Regions from separate parts of the Homo sapiens genome. Here region 1 is linked to region 2. A link means that fine-mapping ties the variant in region 2 to the expression of a gene that starts in the linked region. Tissue or cell type: CD4 T cells. Region 2 holds a variant in brackets; the other region holds the start of a gene. All regions are shown on one strand. Distances are between the middles of the regions.

What was found. PIP is the estimated chance that this variant, and not a neighbour inherited with it, causes the effect.
Region 1: PDPR starts here. The variant in region 2 is fine-mapped to the expression of PDPR in CD4 T cells (BLUEPRINT, PIP 0.95). The same link has a PIP of 0.9 or more in monocytes and neutrophils.

Annotation. Positions count from the first base shown.
Region 1 is chr16:70,108,151-70,118,280 of GRCh38, forward strand. It overlaps PDPR (pyruvate dehydrogenase phosphatase regulatory subunit), which reads left to right and starts at 6,182. Exons shown (of 19, transcript NM_017990.5): 1 at 6,182-6,290; 2 at 6,671-6,780. RefSeq lists enhancers at 6,146-6,195, 6,716-7,658.
Region 2 is chr16:70,152,883-70,163,012 of GRCh38, forward strand. It overlaps PDPR (pyruvate dehydrogenase phosphatase regulatory subunit), which reads left to right. Exons shown (of 19, transcript NM_017990.5): 18 at 509-691; 19 at 3,593-9,655. The coding sequence ends at 3,997. LOC400541 (a long non-coding RNA gene) reads right to left here. Exons shown (of 3, transcript NR_126007.1): 2 at 5,923-6,007; 3 at 3,458-3,622. Among named protein-coding and RNA genes, the nearest start is that of CLEC18C, 16 kb to the right of the region's middle. The variant T/G (reference allele first, on the strand shown) is at 4,244.

The DNA of each region.
Region 1 (10,130 bases), 45 kb before region 2:
CTGTCATACTCCAGGGCCCTGGCAGGACTATGCCTTTCTCCTGCCTGGGTCTTGGAGCCAGGGACTGCTCCTTGACCCATTTGGCTGGGAGACCCCTTAGGGTGGGCCAAATAGCAGGGATTTCTTCAGAGAACAACCAGGATCAGGCCATAGAACTGAGCTGCACCCAACAGCCCCAGGTAGCAGTAGGTGACAGCAGTGAAGATCTGTTCAAGTTTCACTGCAGGGCACACAGGCCCAGGTGAAAGGTTGGGCTGACCTCTGACATTGTGTTTCCATGGGCTTTTCCTGTCTGCCACTGCCACCTCCCAAAGAGCAAGCTCTCTGGCTCACTTACTCTCAGGGAGGTTGTAGTATACCCATTTTATAGATGGAAAAGTTAGGCTTCAGTTCTGTAAGGACAGCAGTGGTTTTCTTTTCTGTTCACTCTGTAGCCTCAGAACTGGGTGTAATAGGTAGGCGGGTGGATCTGAGGCCCAGAGAAGGTAAAAGACTCACCCAAGGGGCCCCAGAGAGTTGGGGACAGAACCAGAGACTGAGTCTAATACTTTCCCAGATGTTTTTCTTTTTTTCTTTTCTTTTTTTTTGAGACAGTCTCACTCTGTCGCCCAGGCTGGAATACAGTGGTGCAATCTTAGCTCATTGCAACCTCTGCCTCCCAGGCTCAAGCGATTCTCCTCCTTCAGCCTCCTGAGCTGGGATTACAGGCACATGCCACCATGCCCGGCTAATTTTTGTATTTTTAGTAGAGATGGGGTTTCTCCATGTTGGCCAGGTTGGTCTTGAACTCCTAACCTCAAGTGATCCACCCGCCTTGGCCTCCCAAAATGCTGGAATTACTGGTTTCTTTTTGAGACAGGGTTTCACTCTGCCGCCCAGGGTGGAGTGCAGTGATGCGATCTCAGCTCACTGCAACCTCCTGAGGTTCTTCTAGCGATTCTCCTGCCTCAGCCTCTCGAGTAGCTGGGATTACAGGCACCCGCCACCATTCCTGGGTAATTTTTATATTTTTAGTAGAGACGGGGTTTTGCCATGTTGGCCAGGCTGGTCTTGAACTATTGACCTCAGGTGATCCTCCCTCCTTGGCCTCCCAAAGTGCTGAGATTACACGCGTGAGCCACCTCGCCCGGCCTGTGAAGTCCTTAAGATGGAGATTTACAAAGGAAAATGAAAGCCAGAGGTGAGGTTTTGGTTTAAGTGAGTTGCAGAGGCAACAGTAACTAAAGGGTCAGGATTGTAGAGAGGAGAGCTGACAGCCTGCAGCCACTTGCATTTGCCAACTCTGGCCAGAGGCTGAGGATCCAGGTTTTTTATGTTTTTATAGTCTCACCAGCCGGAGTGACAAAATTTGGAGGCTTGAATGGCCTCGAATAGATGGCTAGGTCTCAAGCCATCTGGTGAAATCTGAATACACAAGATGCAAACCTGAAACACTAAGCTTAGACCTCTCTAAAGCAGAGCGGAATTTTGCAGAGTCACAGTGCTGAGTAAAAAAATTACCCAGGAATGGTGGCGGGTGCCTGTAATCCCAGCTACTCGAGAGGCTGCGGCACGAGAATCGCTAGAACTGAGGAGACAGAGGCTGCAGTGAGCTCAAATCGCTTCACCGCAGTGAGCTGAGATCGCGTCACTGCAGTGAGCTGAGATTGCGTCACTGCATTCCAGCCTGGGCGGCAGAGTGAAACCCTGTCTCAAAAAAAAAAAAGAAAGAAAGAAATCAGTAATTCCAGCACTTTGGGAGGCCAAGGTGGGTGGATCACTTGAGGTTAGGAGTTCAAGACCAACCTGGCCAACATGGAGAAACCCCATCTCTGCTAAAAATACAAAAATTAGCCAGGCATGGTGGCGTGTGCCTGTAATCCCAGCTCAGGAGGCTGAAGAAGGAGAATCGCTTGAGCCTGGGAGGCAGAGGTTGCAATGAGCTGAGTAGACAGTTTTCAAGATCTCTCAAAAGGAGGGAACCTGGGGTATACTACGGGATTTCAGTTGAAAGACTTGGAGAGCTAGGCCCTGGGAACAGAGGCAAGTGAAGTAGACAGAACCCTATCAACACTGCATCCCATAGACCTTGAGCTAATAAACACAGAAGGAATTACAGAATTAGAAAGTTACCATTTGATAACCACCATAGTAAAATCGTCTCAAGCAAGTCGAGTCAGTGGATAATAAAACTAGTGAGGCTGGGTGTGGTGGCTTATGCCTCTAATCCCAGCACTTTGGGAGGCCAAGGCAGGCGGATCACTTGAGGTCAGGAGTTCAAGACCAGCCTGGCCAACATGGTGAAACCCCATCTCTACTAAAAATACAAAAAAATTAGCCGGGCATAGTGGTGGGCGCCTGTAGCCCCAGCTACTCGGGAGGCTGAGGCAGGAGAATGGCGTGAACCCAGGAGACGGAGCTTGCAGCGAGCCGAGATGGTGCCACTGCACTCCAGCCTGGGTGACTGAGCGAGACTCCGTCTCAAAAAAAAAAAAAAGAGAGAGAAGTTCCAGGCCGGGTGTAGTGGCTCACGCCTGTAATCCCAACACTCTGGGAGGCCGAGGCGAGCGGATCACAAGGTCAGGAGATCGAGACCATCCTGGCCAACATAGTGAAACCCCATCTCTATTAAAAATACAAAATTTAGCTGGGTGTGGTGGCACACGCCTGTAATCCCAGCTGCTCAGGAGGCAGAGGCAGGAGAATCCCTTGAACCAGGGAGTTGGAGGTTGCAGTGAGCCGAGATCGCACCACAGCAGTCTAGCCTGGCGACACAGTAAGACTCCGTCTCAAAAAAAAAAAAAAAAAAGAAGTTCCTGGCTGGGCGCAGTGGATCAAGAGATCGAGACCATCCTGGCCAACATGGTGAAACCCCGTCTCTACTAAAAATACAAAAATTAGCTGGGCATGGTGGCATGTGCCTGTAGTCCCAGCTGCTCAGGAGGCTGATGCAGGAGAATGGCGTGAACCCGGGAGGCAGAGCTTGCAGTGAGCTGAGATCGCGCCACTGTACTCCAGCCTGGGTGACAAAGCAAGACTCCGTCTCACAAAAAAAAAAAAAAAAAAAAAAAAAAAAAGAGTACTGATTGCTACTCGCAACATTCTTCTCTTCCCATGGTGTGAATGAGAACATCCCTGCTTTCCACACAAACACAGGCTCTCAAGCACACGAGAAGCATGCCAGGTGTCAGGTCCTTTCTGTGAAGTCGGTTGTAGGCAGATGTCCAGTCTACTGATGGGGACAAGAACTTCAGAGGGAGGAGGGAGGCCTTCCCCACAGCCATGCCGGTGCTGCAGGGAGGTAAGATAAACGCCTGCATCTTAGCGACCTCAGATCCAAATTCATTCTTACACTGTGGTAACATAGGTATGTCAAATGTTTGTCTGTACACTGTTTATCCTGTGTGGTAGCAAATACATTTACCAAGTCACTGCAGATGAAGATTTCACAAGAGGACTTGACAAGCGTAATTAAAACGTCTGTTTAGGGCAAGACATGGTGGCTCATGCCTCTAATCCCAGCACATTGGGAGGCCAAGGCAGGTGGATCTCTTGAGGTCAGGAGTTTAATGCCAGCCTCAGCAACATAGTGAAACCCCACCTCTACCAAAAAATACAAAAGTTAGCTGGGGACGGTGGCACGCGCCTGAGGTCTCAGCTATTCGGGAGGCTGAGGTGGGAGAATCGCTAGAGCCCAGGAAGTTAAGACTGCAGTGAGCCGTGATTGCACCACTGTGCTCCAGCCTGGGTGACAGGGTGAGAGCTAATCTCAAAAAATAAAAATAGGCTGGACGCGGTGGCTCACGCCTGTAATTCCAGCACTTTGGGAGGCCTAGGTGGGCAGATCACGAGGTCAGGAGTTTGAGACCAGCCTGGCCAACATAGCGAAACCCTGTCTCTAATAAAAATACAAAAATTAGCCCAGCGTGGTGGCGCACGCCTGTACAGTCCCAGCTACTGGGGAGGCTGAGGTAGGAGAATCCCCTGAACCTGGGAGGCAGAGGTTGCAGTGAACCGAGACCACACCATTGCACTCCAGCCTGGGCAACAGAGTGAGCCTCCATCTAAAAAATAATAATAAAATAAAAACACTCAATCCCCTAGAAAAAATAGTGCATCAGTGGTTATGAGAACCTACTAAGGACAAGACCCATCTTTGACAATGAAAGGGGCCTTAGGACTTACTTCCCTTTTTTTTTTTTTTTTGAGACAGTCTCGCTCTGTCGCCTAGGCTAGAGTGCAGTGACACAATCTTGGCTCACTGCAACCTCCGCCTCCTGGGTTTAAGCAATTCTCCTGTCCCAGCCTCCCAAAGTAGCTGGGATTACAGGCATGTGCCACCACGCCCAGCTAATTTTTGTATTTTTTAGTAGAGATGGGGTTTCACCATATTGATCAGGCTGGTCTCGAACTTCTGACCTCACGTGATCCAACTGCCTTGGCCTCCCAAAGTGCTGGCATTACAGGCATGAGCCACCGCACCCAGCCTGACTTAGCATTTTGGAGTGGAGGCCGATCATGGTGATGGAGAAGGAAATCAGGGACAGATCTACACCATTTGTTTGCTATTTACTGCACGTAAACAGAATGAAATCAACACATTAAGTATTTCACTTGATTTCATCCACCATCTCCTGCAGACAACCAGGTTTCTCCCAAATTCATGTGCCTGGAAATGGCTTGAACCAAATGGTTCATGAGGAAAACCTGTGATATTTTTCATGAAATCGCCACATCTGGGCATCAGGAAAGCCTTCCCCGAGAATGTCTCAAATTGGTCAGCCGTTTTCTCTTTTTTTAGACAGGTAGGTGTCCCCAAGCATTCAATCCTAGCTAAAATATGGAAGTATTTATCTAGCACAGGAGCCTATGGCATAGTTTCAGTCCACTGTCTGGCAGACCTCATCTGGGCTGTCTTTGTGTGATTTGACTGGCCAGTAAATGGGGTATAAACTATGTAGGCTGTGGCCTGGCCTTGTGACAGAGGGGTCCCTGGAACTTGACTGCCACTCCCTAAGAGCAGAAACCGCCTCTTTCTTGTACATTGCTGGATCCCATCATCCTGCACAGTGCCTGGCTACAGGTGGCCAGCAATAAAACACAAGATTGGGGCAGGCACAGTGGCTCACGCCTGTAATCCCAGGACTTTGGGAGGCTGAGATGGAAGGATCACTTGAGGCCAGGAGTTCAGGCCCAGCCTAGGCAACATAGTGAGCCTATCTCTACAAAAAAAAAATTTTTTTTAAATTAATAAAACACAAGATTGGTTTGTGTGGTGAGACAGTATTGAATCCAACAAACGGGAACTGGATAGTGTGGCCCAAGATGCAATGGTGGCTGCAGCATGAGACCCTTATGCATATAATATTCAGTGGAAGAGGTGCCAGGCACTGTTCTGGGTGCTGAGAATAAAGCTATGCATAAGACTAAGGTTCTGTCGACAGAGATCGTGTCACACCAGTGGAAAAGACAGTCATCAAACTTATATCCTTGAGTCAGTGATGAGTTCTAGAAGGAAAGAAAAGGCTGATGTGACAGTGAGGAAGGGATGAGTGGAGACTTCTCTGAGACTTCAGTGATTCCTCTTCCTCTGAGCTGAGCCAAGCTGAGAAGCTGAGAAGAGTAAGATAGGGCCGGGAACTCAGGTCCGTTAGTCCGTCCTCCGAGGTGGGGCGGGCCAGCAGAATGGATTTCCGATCTACTCTGTGAGAGCCTCGCCCAAGAAAGCCCAGAGCCACTTCCAAGATCCGCGCTCCCACGGCGATGAGAAGCGTTTTCCCCCGGGACTGCTTGGCTTAGGACTGGGGACCCACTGGCTTTGGAGTAAGCCCTGGCACGGGCCTCGAGGGAAGAAAGAACTCCCGCGCTCCCCACACTCCACAGGGCCTGCGATCATCTCAGATGTTCCGGTTCCACGTGCAGAAACCCCGCCGGTCCGAGGCCCCGGTTCTAAAACGGCCCTAAGAGTCAAGGCTTCCACAGCTCGCCTCTGAGGGTGGCAAAGAGGCCGCGGGGGCGGTGCCTCGCGAGACCCAAACAAGCCCACGTGGCAGGGGCGGGGCTCCGCGAAGGCGTCACGGCGCGCTCGTGCGCTGCTGAGGTCACGCGCCGGCAGTACCCTTGCCCGGGGGCCGTAAAGCGCGGAAGGTCGCGGTCTCGGCTTCCCCGGAACTTTTTGCTCGCTTCGCCCCGCCCCCTTCCCATCCCCGAACCCCGCTTTCCGGCCCGCGGCGACCCCAGGCAACTGTTGTGGCTGCCGCATTGCTCCCGCCGGGCTGTAGCTGAGCGCGGAGCCCGTGGGGACCGGTGAGGTAAGGAGATAGCTTCGGGGCAACTCTGGCCTCCCCGTCCGCGCGGGCCTAAGCGCCCCGGGACCCCTGGGTTCCCCTCTTTCTCCTTTGGTTTCGCCCGGGGGTGGTCCCCGCTAGCTCACGCTTCCAGTGGGTTCCGCCTGGCCTCTCGCGAAGTCGCGTCCGGGCGCCAGTACTCGTCCCCGTAAGGTTGTCCGCTCGTGCCTTGGCTTGTGTTCTCGGCTACCCCTGGGCGTGCGCACCGCTCCTCCAGGAGCCTGCACTTCAGCCCCGATGCCAGGGCGGCCGGGGTGACCTCGGGCTCCCCCGTCTCGGGCTTGCACACCCCTGCGGCGCAGAGCCAACTCCAGCTTGTCTAGCCCGGTCCTCCATCCCTGCAGATGGAACTGTTTTCCCGCGTTGAGACGTGCGGTCCGCTTGTGCTTTTAGAACTAAAGACTGCTGCAGAGTCCGGAGGAAGAAGTCACCTAGAAAAATCTGGGACAGGGCAGTAAGCTTCCTTCTTAATGTTTGACCTTTGGGGGCCGATGTGTGATACCTCGGATTTGAATCAAGAATCTCCAAGCCCATTTTCCGCATGCATGTAAACGTGATGTACCGGGATGGGGTCTGGTGGTGGAGGAGGAGCCAGCCTGACGGATAAGCTTTTCCAGTGGCAGGGACTTGTGTTAATTTCTTTTTTCTTTTTTTTTCTTTTTTCCGAGACAGAGTTTCACTCTGTCGCCCAGGCGGGAGTGCAGTGGCGCGATCTCGGCTCACTGCAACCTCTGCCTCCTGGGTTCAAGCAATTCTCCTGCCTCAGCCTCCCAAGTAGCTGGGAATACAGGTGTGCGCCACCACGCCCGGCTAATTTTTGTGTTTTTAGTAGAGACGGGGTTTCACTATGTTGGCCAGGCTGGTCTCGAACTCCTGACCTCGTGATTCTCCCGCCTCAGCCTCCCAAAGTGCTGGGATTACAGGCGTGAGCCACTGCGCTCGGCCAACTTGTGTTAATTTCTTAAACTTGCGTGATCACCTGGTGTACTTGTTGAAAAATACAGCTCCCTGGAGTGGCAGGATCAGAATCTGCCGAGGTGGACCGTGGGAATCTGTCATTTTTAAACAAGTGTCCCAGGTGGTTCTTTTGCTGAGGCAAGTGTGGGAAATGTTGTGTGAACCCACGCTCATCCAGTCTTCCTTGTGACCGGCAGTCCACTGTGCGCAACGCTGCAGCCATACAGAGGGACAACTCGAAGTTAGAACTAGCACCTTGGTCTTGTTGGAATAAGCAGATCTGAGTAGAGCCAGCTGCAGTCTTATGGTTGTTTAGCAGAAGTTATTCTTCTTAGCAGAGAATATTATACGGTCATTTTCCAGAACTGTAAAAACTCTATCATTTGTTTTAAACCAGATGATGTGCTTCATTTCTGTCTTTGACGTCTTCAGTTTCTTCTCCCCTGGCTTTACCTCCTTTGTTATCAGTTTGTGCTTTGGTTTTGCTGCCAACCTTATAGGTTTAGGTTTGGCGGCAAAGGCACTAGACTCTGGTGCCTTCTTTTCCTTCGTTGTCTTAAGCCCTTCTTTTCCTCTGCCCTCATGCCCTCACCACTTCACTCTTTTGAAGGTCATAATGAACACAAGGTCAGAGATCCCTTTTTTGGCGCCAAGCACCCTGGGCTTTTTTGAGATGGAGTCTCACTGTGTCACCCAGGCAGTGGCGCGAATCTGCCCACTGCAGCCTCCATCTCCCTGGTTGAAGCAATTTTCCTGTCTCAGCCTCCTGAGTAGCTGGGACTACAGGTGCAAGCCACGACACCTGGCTAATTTTTCTGTTTTTAGTAGAGACGGGGTTTCACCATGCTGATCAGGCTGGTCTCAAACTCCTGACCTCAAATAATCCACCCACCTTGGCCTCCCAAAGTGCTAGGATTACAGGTGTGAGCCCCTGCGCCTGGCCTTTCTTTGTTTTGTTTTGTTTAAGACAGAGTCTCACTGTGTCACCCAGGCAGGAGTGCAGTAGCATAATCTCGGCTCACTGCAACCTCTGTCTCCCAGGCTCAAGCGATCCTCCTACCTCAGGAGTTCAGGACCAGCCTGGGCAACATAGTGAGCCCCTCTCTACAAAAAAAAAAAAAAAATTAAAAAAATTAATAAAACACAAGATTGGCCTGTGTGGTGAGAGAGTATTGAATCCAACAAACGGGAACTGGTTAGTGAGGCCCAAGATGCAATGGTGGCCGCACCATGAGTACCTGGGACCACAGGTGCGTGCCACCACACCCAGCTAATTTTTTGTATCTTTGGTAGAGACGGGGTTTCACCATGTTTGCCAGGCTGGTCTCCAACTTCCGACCTCAAATGATCTACCCGCCTCGGCCTCCCAAAGTGCTGAGATAACAGGCGTGAGACATGGCGCCCGGCCTAAAGTTTTTTTTTTAATTCCACCTTAAAACTCATCTGTTACTGTGTTTGTTCTGCCACCTTTGCAATTCCCTTTCTCTGTTAGGGGAATGTGCTTAATGGTTCAGTCCTCACAGCTGTCCTTTCCTTACCATCTGCTTTTATTTGAAAGGTAGCGTGGAGTCATGATTAAATAGCCGGCCACTAATGCCAAATTGGCAGGGTTCTGCTACTCAACAGTTTGGTAGGACCTTGGGTGAGTCACTTCCACTTATCTGTGCCTGTTTCCTCAAGTGTAGAATAGAAATGCTAGTATCTACCTCATAAGGTTGTGAGGATTAAATTAGTTATATATATAGGCAGTATCTGGTGCATTGTAACTACTTATAAAAATATTAGCTTTAAAAATTATTTGCCGGTCACAGTGGCTCATGCCTGTAATCCCAGCACTTTGGGAGGCCAAGGCAGGCGGATCACGAGGTCGGGAGATTGAGACCATCCTGGCTAACATGGTGAAACCCCGTCTCTCCTAAAAATTAAAAAAAAAAATTAGCCAGGCATGGTGGTGGGTGCCTGTAGTCCCAGCTACTCAGGAGGCTGAGGCAGGAGAATGGCATCAACCCAGGAGGCAGAGCTTGCAGTGAGCTGAGATCGCACCACTGCACTCCAGCCTGGGCGACAGAGCGAGACTCCATCTCAAAAAAAATAAATAAGATGTCAAAGAGGCTGTGACCTGAGGAGATTACCTGTATTTGGGGGAGAGGTGGCAGGAACCATGCCAGGAGGGAACAGCATGCACAGAACCTGGAGCCGAATAGAACACTCACGCCTCACCTGATATGTTTGACGAATTACAGGTTGTTCAGTCTGGTTTGGTCAGAGTGTGAGGAAAGGAGAAATGAGACCACAGATAAGAACCAGAGTGTGAAGGATCTTGCACTTGATATGAAAAGAGTTTTGCCTTTTTCCTGAGGGCATCAGAAAGTCATTAAGGTGGGTGTGGTGGTTCACGCCTATAATCCCAGCACTTTGGGAGGCCAAGGCCAGTGGATCACCTGAGGTCAGGAGTTCAAGACCAGCCTAATCAACATGGTGAAACCCTGTCTGTACTAAAAATACAAAAAGTAACTGGGCGTGGTGGCGCGTGCTTGTAGTTCCAGCTGTTCAGGAGGCCGAGGCAGGAGAATTGCTTGAACCTGGGATGCAGAGGTTGCAGTGAGCCGAGATCACACCGCTGCACTCCCAGCTGGGCGACAGAGTGAGACTCTGTCTCAAAAAAAAAAAAAAAATTGCTGAGGAAAAGCAGCAAAAAGGGAGGGAAACGTTGCAGGTACATGAAAGAGAGATAGCAGTTGATGGAGCTAGGGTCAAGAGAAGAGAGGAGGAAGTGGGATCCAGGGCCCTTGGGGGAGATTAACTTTCCAGTGGATAAAAGAAGGAAGGAAGAGATGGTTGCAGATG
Region 2 (10,130 bases):
TTCCTGGCTCCCCCGCCGTCATCCGATGTGTGCACACGTCTCGAGTAACGTGTGAGAGCTGGGCCTCACAGCTTGGGCCAGTACGTGAGGGAGTAACAGTGGTTGGGAAATTGGAGCAAAAGAACAAAGCCAGAATCAGATGAAGACCATGGAGGGTTGGTGGGCTGTTTTAGAAATGATGATGAGATTGGCCATTTACCAAATGGTGAGAGAGCTTCTATAAATTATTATTTAAGAATTGCTGTAAGCTAGAATCACCACACAAGACATTTTAGAGAGGTGAAAAGACATGGATCCTGTTGTCATGGAGCTTAAGTCCAGGCTGGGGTGACCCCAGCTCATCACTCCTGGGCTGTGCCCTGAGCGTGTCAAGGATGAGACATCCTGGGAGTTTTATACGCCTCCTCTCTTGTCCATGTTAATAGTGTGAGCCATCAGCGCTTCCAGACATGCTCCATGCTTAATTCTGAAGGTCTGCTGCTTATGAACTTTCTGTCTCTTCCTATAGTACGCCCTGCATGTATACAATGAAGTGATGAGTGTTGGCCAGAAATACGGAATCCGGAATGCTGGGTATTACGCTCTTCGCAGTCTCCGAATTGAGAAGTTTTTTGCCTTCTGGGGTCAGGATATAAATAACCTCACCACGCCCCTGGAATGTGGACGAGAGTCTCGGGTGAAATTAGAGAAGGTACTGTGTTTACCCAGACTCCACTTTCACTCAGCATCCCGAGTAGTGAATCTGCACTAGACTAGGAAGAAGAACTGATGTGACAGGAAAAGGGGGAAAAGATTGAGGCCTTGATGTTAGCATCAGGTAAATGAGGACAAGAGTGCCCTGAGAATGAAAACTTTATAGGATAAAATATCTTCAAATGAAAACATAATAATGGTGGCTCACGCCTGAATCCCAGCACTTTGGGAGGCTGAGGCGGGTGGATCACCTGAGGTCAGGAGTTCGAGACCAGCCTGGCCAACATGGCAAAACCCGTCTCTACTAAAAATACAAAAAGTAGGCCGGGCACGGTGGCTCACACCTGTAATCCCAACACTTTGGGAGGCCAAGGCGGGCGGATCACAAGTTCAGGAGATCGAGATCATCCTAGCTAACACAGTGAAACCCCGTCTCTACTAAAAATACAAAAAATTAGCCGGGTGTGGTTGCGGGCGCCTATAGTCAGGAGAATGGCGTGAACCCAGGAGGCAGAGGTTGCAGTGAGCCGAGATCACGCCACTGCACTCCAGCCTGGGCGACAGAGCGAGACTCCGTCTCAAAAAAAAAAAAATTTACAAAAAGTAGCTGGGCGTGGTGGCCAGCACCTGTAGTTCCAGCTACTCGGGAGGCTGAGGCAGGAGAATCACTTGAACCTAACAGGCAGAGGTTGCAGTGAGCCAAAATCGCACCACTGCACTCCAGCCTGTGTGACAGGGCAAGACTCCGTCTCAGAAAAAAGAAAACATAGTAAATAGATGACACTTGGTCAGGTGCGGTGGCTCACAACTGTAATCCTAGCACTTTGGGAGGCCAAGGCAGGAGGATCACTTGAGCTCAGCCTGGGCAATACAGCAAGACCTTGTCTCTGAATTACAATTGAAAAACAAACAAAAAAACCCACTTATTTCTAGTGTTCTGCTGTCTAAAAGACTGAGTGCTTTCTGGGAAGCTATTCTGAGTTAATTATGGTGATGCATTAACATGCCACGAATATTTGTACAAACTAGTCGTCCTATAGTCAGCTGCCTAATTTTTGTGGTTTTTTTCTTTTGTTTTTGATTTTGAGGTGGGGTCTCATTCTGTCACCCAGGTTGGAGTGCAGTGGCGCGATGTTGGCTCACTGCAATGCCCTCTCATGCTCAAGTGATCCTCCCACTTCAGCCTCCCAAGTGGCTGGGACCACAGATGCACAACCATGCCCAGCTAATTTTTTTGTATTTTGGTAAAGACAGAGTTTCACCACATTGGCCAGGGTGGTCTCGAACTCCTGAGCTCAGGTGATCCGCCCTCCTCGGCCTCCCAGAGTGCTGGGATTACAGGCGTGAGACAGCACACCCGGCCTAATTTTTTTGGTTTTTTTGTTTTGGGCGGATCACCTGAGTTCACAAGTTCGAGACCAGCCCGGCCAACATGGTGAAACCCCGTATCTGCTAAAAATATAAAAATTAGCTGGGCATGGTGGCAGGCACCTGTAATCCCAGCTACTCGGTAGGCTGAGGCAGGAGAATTGCCTGAACCTGGGAGGCAGAGGTTGCAGTGAGCCGAGATCATACCATTGTACTCCCACCTGGGTGACAGAGCAAGGCTCCATCTCCAAAAAAAAAAAAGGTAATAACCCATTTTGGAAAATATAAAGAAGGAAATTAAAATCACCCATATTTTGTCTATTTAATGGTAGTAACTATTTTTTTTTTCTTTCTTGAGACGGAGTTTCGTTCTTGTTGTCCAGGCTGGAGTGCAGTGGCGCGATCTCAGCTCACTGCAATCTCTGCCTCCTGGCTTCAAGCGATTCTCCTGCCTCAGTCTCCCGAGTAGCTGTAAGCCATCCAGCTAATTTTGTATTTTTTGTCTTTACCAAAATACAAAAAATTAGGTGGGTGTGGTGGCGCATCTGTGGGCCCAGCTACTTGGGAGGCTGAAGTGGGAGAATCACTTGAGCATGAGAAGGCATTTTTGTATTTTTTCTTTTTTTAGTAGAGATGGGGTTTCTCCAGGTTGGTCAGGCTGGTCTCGAACTCCTGACCTCAGGAGATCCCCCCGCCTTAGCCTCCCAAAGTGCTGGGATTACAGGCGTGAGCCACCGTGCCTGGCCATAATCACCGTTAATAGTTTATTCTAGTCTTATTTGTTGTACATATGTGTATATATGTGTGTATGCATTGAATATAGATGTGCATGGTCTTGTTGGGATTATATAAAAAAGTCTTTTTTTTTTTTTTTTTGAGACAGAGTTTTGCTGTGTCAACCGAGGCTGGACTGCAGTGGTGCAATCTTGGCTCACTGCAGCCTCTGCCACCCAGGTTCAAACGATTTTCCTGTCTCAGTCTCCCTAGAATTATAGGCACACTCCACCAGAATCTTGGCTCACTGCAGCCTCTGCCTCCCAGGTTCAAGTGATTTTCCTGTCTCAGCCTCCCAAGTAGCTAGAACTATAGGCACACTCCACCACACCCAGCTTATTTTTGTATTTTTAGTAGAGATGAGGTTTGCCTCATCTCTGTTCAAGGCGTGAGCCACCACGACTGGCCAATATAAAAACATTTTTCTAAAGTACTGGACTGATAAGGTATTTTATTAAGTGAGTGAGTTTTCTTCCTAAACGTTTTTGTTCTATCTGGTCTTGTGACTTTATGTTTATAAAATAGGAAACAAAATGCGTACCTCTGTTGTTACAAAAATTACCGCGGCGTCTTTTATATTTCACATGCAGTTTTTCACATGGTAGAAATCGCACAGTTTCCCAAAAGCTGGCAGGGTTGTGGGAGGAGGCGGCTGTGCCCCATTGCAGTGACACCAGGGGACCCTTCCCACGGTGCTGCTCTCTGTGCCGAGGGTCTGAGTGTCGCTGGATGACTCGGCGTTTCCTTTCTTTCTTAGGGCATGGATTTCATTGGTCGCGACGCCCTCCTGCAGCAGAAGCAGAATGGAGTGTATAAACGCCTCACCATGTTCATCCTGGACGACCATGATTCAGACCTAGACCTTTGGCCTTGGTGGGGAGAGCCCATTTACCGGAATGGGCAGTATGTTGGCAAGACCACCAGCAGTGCCTACAGCTACAGCCTGGAGCGCCACGTTTGCCTGGGCTTTGTGCACAATTTTTCTGAGGACACGGGGGAAGAGCAAGTGGTGACAGCAGATTTCATCAACCGGGGAGAGTATGAGATTGACATCGCGGGATACCGCTTCCAGGCCAAGGCCAAGCTCTACCCTGTCGCCTCCCTCTTCACCCAGAAGCGCCGAAAGGATGACATGGAGCTGAGTGACTTACATGGGAAGTGATGCCACCAGGGCAGCCTCACCTCCTCCCCATCATCTTGTCCTAGAGTGGGCGTCACCTTGGAGCTTCTCTTCCTTCCGCCTCTGTTCCTCTTCTGGAGCCTTTGCCTCCCATCTCTTATCTCCTTGATATAATTTTGAACTTGACCTACTTTAAACTTTTTTGCTCTGCAGCCTTCCTTGCCCTTCCACCTCCTCCTCCTAATATTCACTCTGGGCTCTTCTTCCCTTCCCACCCCTCACTCAGCT[T/G]CTCGTGGTGGCAGGAGGTATGTCTGACAGGACAGAAGCAAGCTCCACTGTGGACATGAGTGATGGTGACAGCTGCTTTCAAATTCTGCATCTCAAGGCAGGGCAAGCCGGGGTGGTGCAGGTCTCAGGGCACGAGTCCCTCTCCCTTGGGTTCCATTTTCTTGGAGCAGCCTATTAGTTCTGGTGGGGTTGCCGTGTGTCGGATGCAGCCCTGAGGGGCAGCTCGTGCCTGCAGCCCGGCAGCTCGTTCTCCTGTTCTGCTGTGCTGTGGGCTGGCACTCGATACCTCTGGCAAGAGGATGATTATCTACCTCACTGATAAGAGGCATCGCATGGACGTTCTCTGGTCTGTAGTGGAGACAAGCAGTTAACCTAGCACCATCCTCATCCTCCCTGCAGAAGCCATTAGCAGACCTTTGGGCCAGGGCAGCCTCCCTATAATTTTCTTCATCTCTTGCTAATCTCTATAATAAGGTTGCTTTTTCTTTCTTAGTTGAGTAAACAAGTAAGCCACAGTGTTTGAAAGGGAAAAACCATATTGCCTTGTGTGTTGCTTTTCCCAGTCAAAAGGGTCTGACCTTAGAAAGTCCCCACCAGTGATGCTGAGTGTTCTGCTATGGAAACAATGCTGCTTTTCTCTCAGCTGTCCAAAGTTCAGCCGTTCCTCCTTCCCCTTCTCCCAGTGCGTTTGACTTTGTCAGGTCAGCCTCACTTGTCCCTTTCACAGTTGGCCCATAAAGTCATGTTTCTCTCCCTTTAGAATAGGGAGGGGAAGGGATCAGGTGTGTTGTCCTGGGCCTTTCAACCTTGCGGGCTGTGCTGAGTTCCAGAGAGCTGCCGGAATTCCAGGTTTGACTCTCCAGCACAGAGCAGAGCTACACAGAGGTGACCCACGTTAGTCCACTGAGAGTTCTGAGTCCAAAGGGTGTACGTTGCATAAGGCTAGAGACCGCTTTTCCTCCTTTCCCCCCAGGCTCTTTGTTTCCCTCCACCCACCCTTCCATATCCTCTGGAGCAGGAGACAATGTGGGTGCCCAGAAGTGCCCTGCGCTTTCAGGCAGTGTCTCTGTTTTCCCAAGGTGAAACTTAGATATCATGGACTGTTGTCCAGCCTCAATGCTTCATTTTCCCCTTGCATATCAACTGCCCTAATCTGACTTTTTTTAAGTGCAAATAAACTGCTATAAGACATTTTGGTTAGTAAAACTCTAGCCTTTGGCGTGTTGGTATCTTGGAAGCATTAGCTCTGATAGGTCTATAAGTGTATTAAGGGACATCCTTCCATTTCATTAGAGCAGCTTAAAATGCTCAGGTGTCTGCCTTCTCTGGTGTTTCTTTGGGATCTCTGTTTACCCACTTACGCTGGCTCCTTCTAGACATTTCTTGCCACTTCCCCAACTAGACCACTCCTAGTGATTACTGACTTTAGTGCCTAAACCTTTTTGGAAGGTTCTGGTTGGCTTGTTAGAGGAGCATATGATTAGAATTCTGTTTGGGGGTCTAGTTGTCTTGGAGCAAGTATGTACTTAACTAGCCGAGAGATGCTGCCTCTAGGCAGAGAGGAGGAGAGGTGTTGCCGGCTGGAGGGCCAACCAGTGAACACCAGCTGTGAAGGCCTTGGGAGAGGAGGAACAGGCCCTTGGGCAGATGCAGGCATTACCAGCAGGGAGCAGACTTACCTCCGAAGATGGAGACAGGTGACTGAGAGCTGCAGGCCTCCTCTGCTCTTCCAAACACGTAGCATTTGCACCCCTCCAAAGCCATCTTTGTAAAGGAAAACGTATTTGTAATTGAATCCAGAAGAATTTAGTTACACATAGACATAACTCTTCAACCTTAACTATGGCAATACATTTGTGCTTTAACTGTTACATAGCAGTATCACCACTTACCAGGATCCAAATCGAAATAATAAAAGCTGTCTCCATAGTTTAAAATCGAATAGTGCCATCATCACAGTATATTAGTCAAATAGAAGCTTCATCAGAAATGTATCCCACATAGAGTTTTAAGACTTGGATTCTCTTCTGCCCTTGTTAATCTCCAACTAATTACTACAGATTGACACGTTTTTAATTAGCTGTCCTTTGTAAGAAGTCAGGAAATCTGATGCTGTGTCCAAAATTATGCACTGTTTGTTGAAGTAGAACCAGAAATCCTGACCTCCTGTTAAATGACATCAGTTTCCCCCTCTGAGCAACAGACTGCTTGTCTTGCTAGGAGAGGAGGATGGGGGGCTGAGCACTCAGGCTGTCCATTGAAACCCCTTGTCCATGAATAGGGTCATACTCCTAAGACTGATGGGGTGTTGATCTTCTAGGACATCACTTGTTTATTCAGTGCCCCAAACACAGATTTCTCTTCTAGCACTTTAGAGTTGATCCTTGAAGTCTCTCCTGGTTCATTCAAATACAAGCTGTGTGAGTCTGGTGGTTTTCTGTGATTGGTCTAATGTGAGCTCTTTGAACAGACAGATCTGACAGTGAATGACTCTCCCCTGCTTCTGGCATAACTGCTTTGCCTCTGTCTAGTGTCCAAGCATCTTAGCTGTTCAAGAGGAGAGGGCAGCATAACTTCCTGACCACCGGTGTCAGATATCAGAGCATTCTGGACTCCTGAGAGGCAGTGGCCTCTTGAGTGAACAGGGGAGGCCAGTAGATGCCCCAGATCCAGAGCCGTGGCTGCAAATCCAGCAGGAATAAGGAGGGACAACCACAGCCTCCTCATCCATGTGTCATTTCCAAGGGTTTGCCTTGTGTCTCAGCTCATTCTGGGCAGCACGTTTGTCTTCTGTCCCTAGAGATTTGAAGGATTTTGGACTCTTGTGAATGGGTGACTGGACTTGGCTTTACAGAGTTGGGTGCTTTTTTCTCTCTGCAATTACCTGTCATAGCATTTTGTGCTCACCACGAAGGATGGTCTCTGCCTTCTCTTGTCGGTGTATGCCATCTGAACCTAGGAACACAAAGTATATTGGCCTCAAACGGAGACCCAGGGTTGCCAGTTTTCCGTGGGCCTTCCCCTCCCTTGAAATGTCTTTAATTACCTCCCCTTCATCGTCAGGCCACGTGTGACTTCTGTTCTTAGCACTGCCAGGGTCATTGACTTCCATCTAAGCTTGCATCAGGAAGATGTTCCTTCTGTGATCATTGGTACTGAAGCCAGAAAAGCTCTCATTCAGGAACTCTGAAGAGCAAAAAGGGACAAACACTAACTGCTGAGCTGGGCCATTTGATCTCCTTTCACCTTGCATTGCTGTCACAGCACCTTGTATGATGGCAGGACAGGCTCCAGCAGAGAGAACTGCACAGTGACCACTGTATTTTTCACGCTCTTCCAGGGATCCCTGTCCCCCGACATTGAAGAGATCTCATTCAGGCCAGAGACACAGAGACCACATAGCCCAGTGATTAAACCCCGGTTTCACTCTGGCCCCAGGAGTGGAGCCTGGCCACTCCTGTTTGGTTCTCACTGGGAGGCCCACTGGCCTTGGATCATCTCCTCATGCACACCCGGAGTTTTACCTGCTTGCTTGCTTTCCTGGACTGCTGTTTGCAAGAAAGTAACTAAAACATGAAAAGTAAACCTCCAGCTTCCACAGTATATTACCTGCCGTTGCATGCATTTGAAAGTTAGCCTCCTCCCTTGCCACCGTCTTGGTGGCAGTAGCGATGCAAGAATGATGGGAGCTTTCCGAGAGCGTTCAGTGTTTCACTGAAGACAGGACCCATAGCCTTCATTTCTGGCTCTGTGTCTCCTCTGGCATATGGACACATTTCCTGGCATTTGCCTGAGTCTACACCACTTTTTGAGAACCTGAAATAGAAGGGAATCTTCTGTGGCCCACAGTCTCCATATTGGCACTAGAAGACTGGCCTGGCGGAGGAATTTGCGTTGGCTTGCTTTCAGGGGTTAGCTACAAGATTCAGCTTTATATCTCTGTTGCTTCTTGGCCAGTGTAGTCAATAAGGGTCTTCTTTAACATCTAAGATAGAGGTTTGGTTGGCCGGGCGTGGTCGCTTACTCCTGTAATCCCAGCACTTTGGGAGGCCCAGTGAGGTGGGAGAATTGCTTGAACCCAGGAGGCAGAGGTTGCAGTGAGCTGAGATTGCACCACTGCACTCCAGCCTGGGTAACAGAGTGAGACTCTTGTCTCAAAAAAAAAAAAAAAAAAATCTAAGATAGAGGTTTGGTCAACAGTGCTTAATAATAAATAAGAACCTCCTGCCATTCTAATTTTCCTGCTGCACCCCATCCCCCACACACCCCTCACGAACATTGATATAAGCAGTATTAACACAGTATAAAGAATGTTCACCTTGCATATGTCATTTCAGGCACATGGATTCAGGAGAAGCACAGTTGAGTGGAAGAAATGGTAGACTTGTGAGGCTTGCCCCAGGCCTTGTGTACACGCAATAAGTGGTGAGCCATGGGTCTCTCCGTCAGCGCCTCCCTCCCCGCCACCACTTCAGGCCAACAATTTAAGGTGCTGAGTTGTAAGGCTCCTCCATTGTCAGTACAGGGCTCGCCTTTGTAGCCCTGATCACTACCAGTACACTTTTCAAGACAACTGAGTATTTTTGTATGCCTTTGCCTTCCCTTTGTCCATGAAACATGAAGAGTTGTTTATGGTTCTTGACTTCTCTGAGCAGAGTGTCTGCATCTCTTGGAGAGTTACACATTTCTTCATGAGCCATTTTTCTCATTCTTAGATGCACCTGTTTTTATCCTTTGCAGACCATCTTCTGCCTTCTTATTTTCCTGTCTGTCAAAGACAGAAATTACAGGAGATAGGGAGGGTTTTTTAGCATCTCTTTCAAAAGATGTATGTCAGAATTTCCTTTGCACACCAAGAACTGGAGCTTAGAGCCCCACTATTCTCTAAGCCAGGTTCTAGTGCCTTACACTCCAGAATGTCAGATGGTGGGTGCAGATTGGAAGAAAGAGAAAAGTTCATCTCGGTGTGTGGGTTCCCATCCGCCCCACATAGCCTCTCCTTCTTCGGAACAATGGGCGTGGGGTAGAAAGCTCTTTCAGTGAAGGGTGTTCTAGCAGCTCAGTTAACACTTTACTCTCCAGTCAACACTTGGGACATATAAAAATGCCATTGTAACTACTGTAGAGTCCTGTGACTCATCGTTTGTGTTTGTCAATTTGCAGTTCAGCTTAGCCCTTCCCTGTTCCTGTGTAGTTACAATCTGGCCCTGAAGACATCCGAGGCACTTCAGTAAGTGGGATCTTTTCTAGAGATCCTGGGTGACTTTGGGTGCACAGGGTGACCGAGCATTTCTGCCCCTGTGAATGTGGCACTAACACTGTGCACTGTCTCCACCAAGCAAGGTTTCCACTGAGTTTCTTCTCATGTTACTGGGTTTGTAAATGAATAAACACATTTTAACTACTCTTGCACGGCTGCTTGTGAAATGTTCTTCATCTGTAGTGACTTAAATGTGTTTGCCACCACAAAGCATAAACAGCGTGCAGAGGAGAGTGTGTACCTCCCTGTGTGTACCAGTGTGAGGGAGGATTTGGGGACGGGGGTAGAGAAGATGTAGGTGTTTATCTTACCCTCCCTGCAGCGCTGGAGTGGCTGGGGGTAAAAGCTTCCCGCCTCCTGAAATTCCGACCGGCCTTCTGCCTACAGCTGACCTCAGGAGGAACCTGCCACCTGATGTTCCACACGGGCACGTGTGCACTCAGGTTTGTGTGGAAAGCAAGGGGGGTCGTGTTCTCACCCTGTGGAAACAACCCTGAGAGAAACAACCAGTGCTCTTTTTCTACACCAGCTTCCATCCACAAGTTGGTCCCTGGACTTGACCTGTTCACTAATTTTTTTTTTTGAGGCAGAGTCTTGCTCTTTTGCCCAGGCTGGAGTACAGTGGTG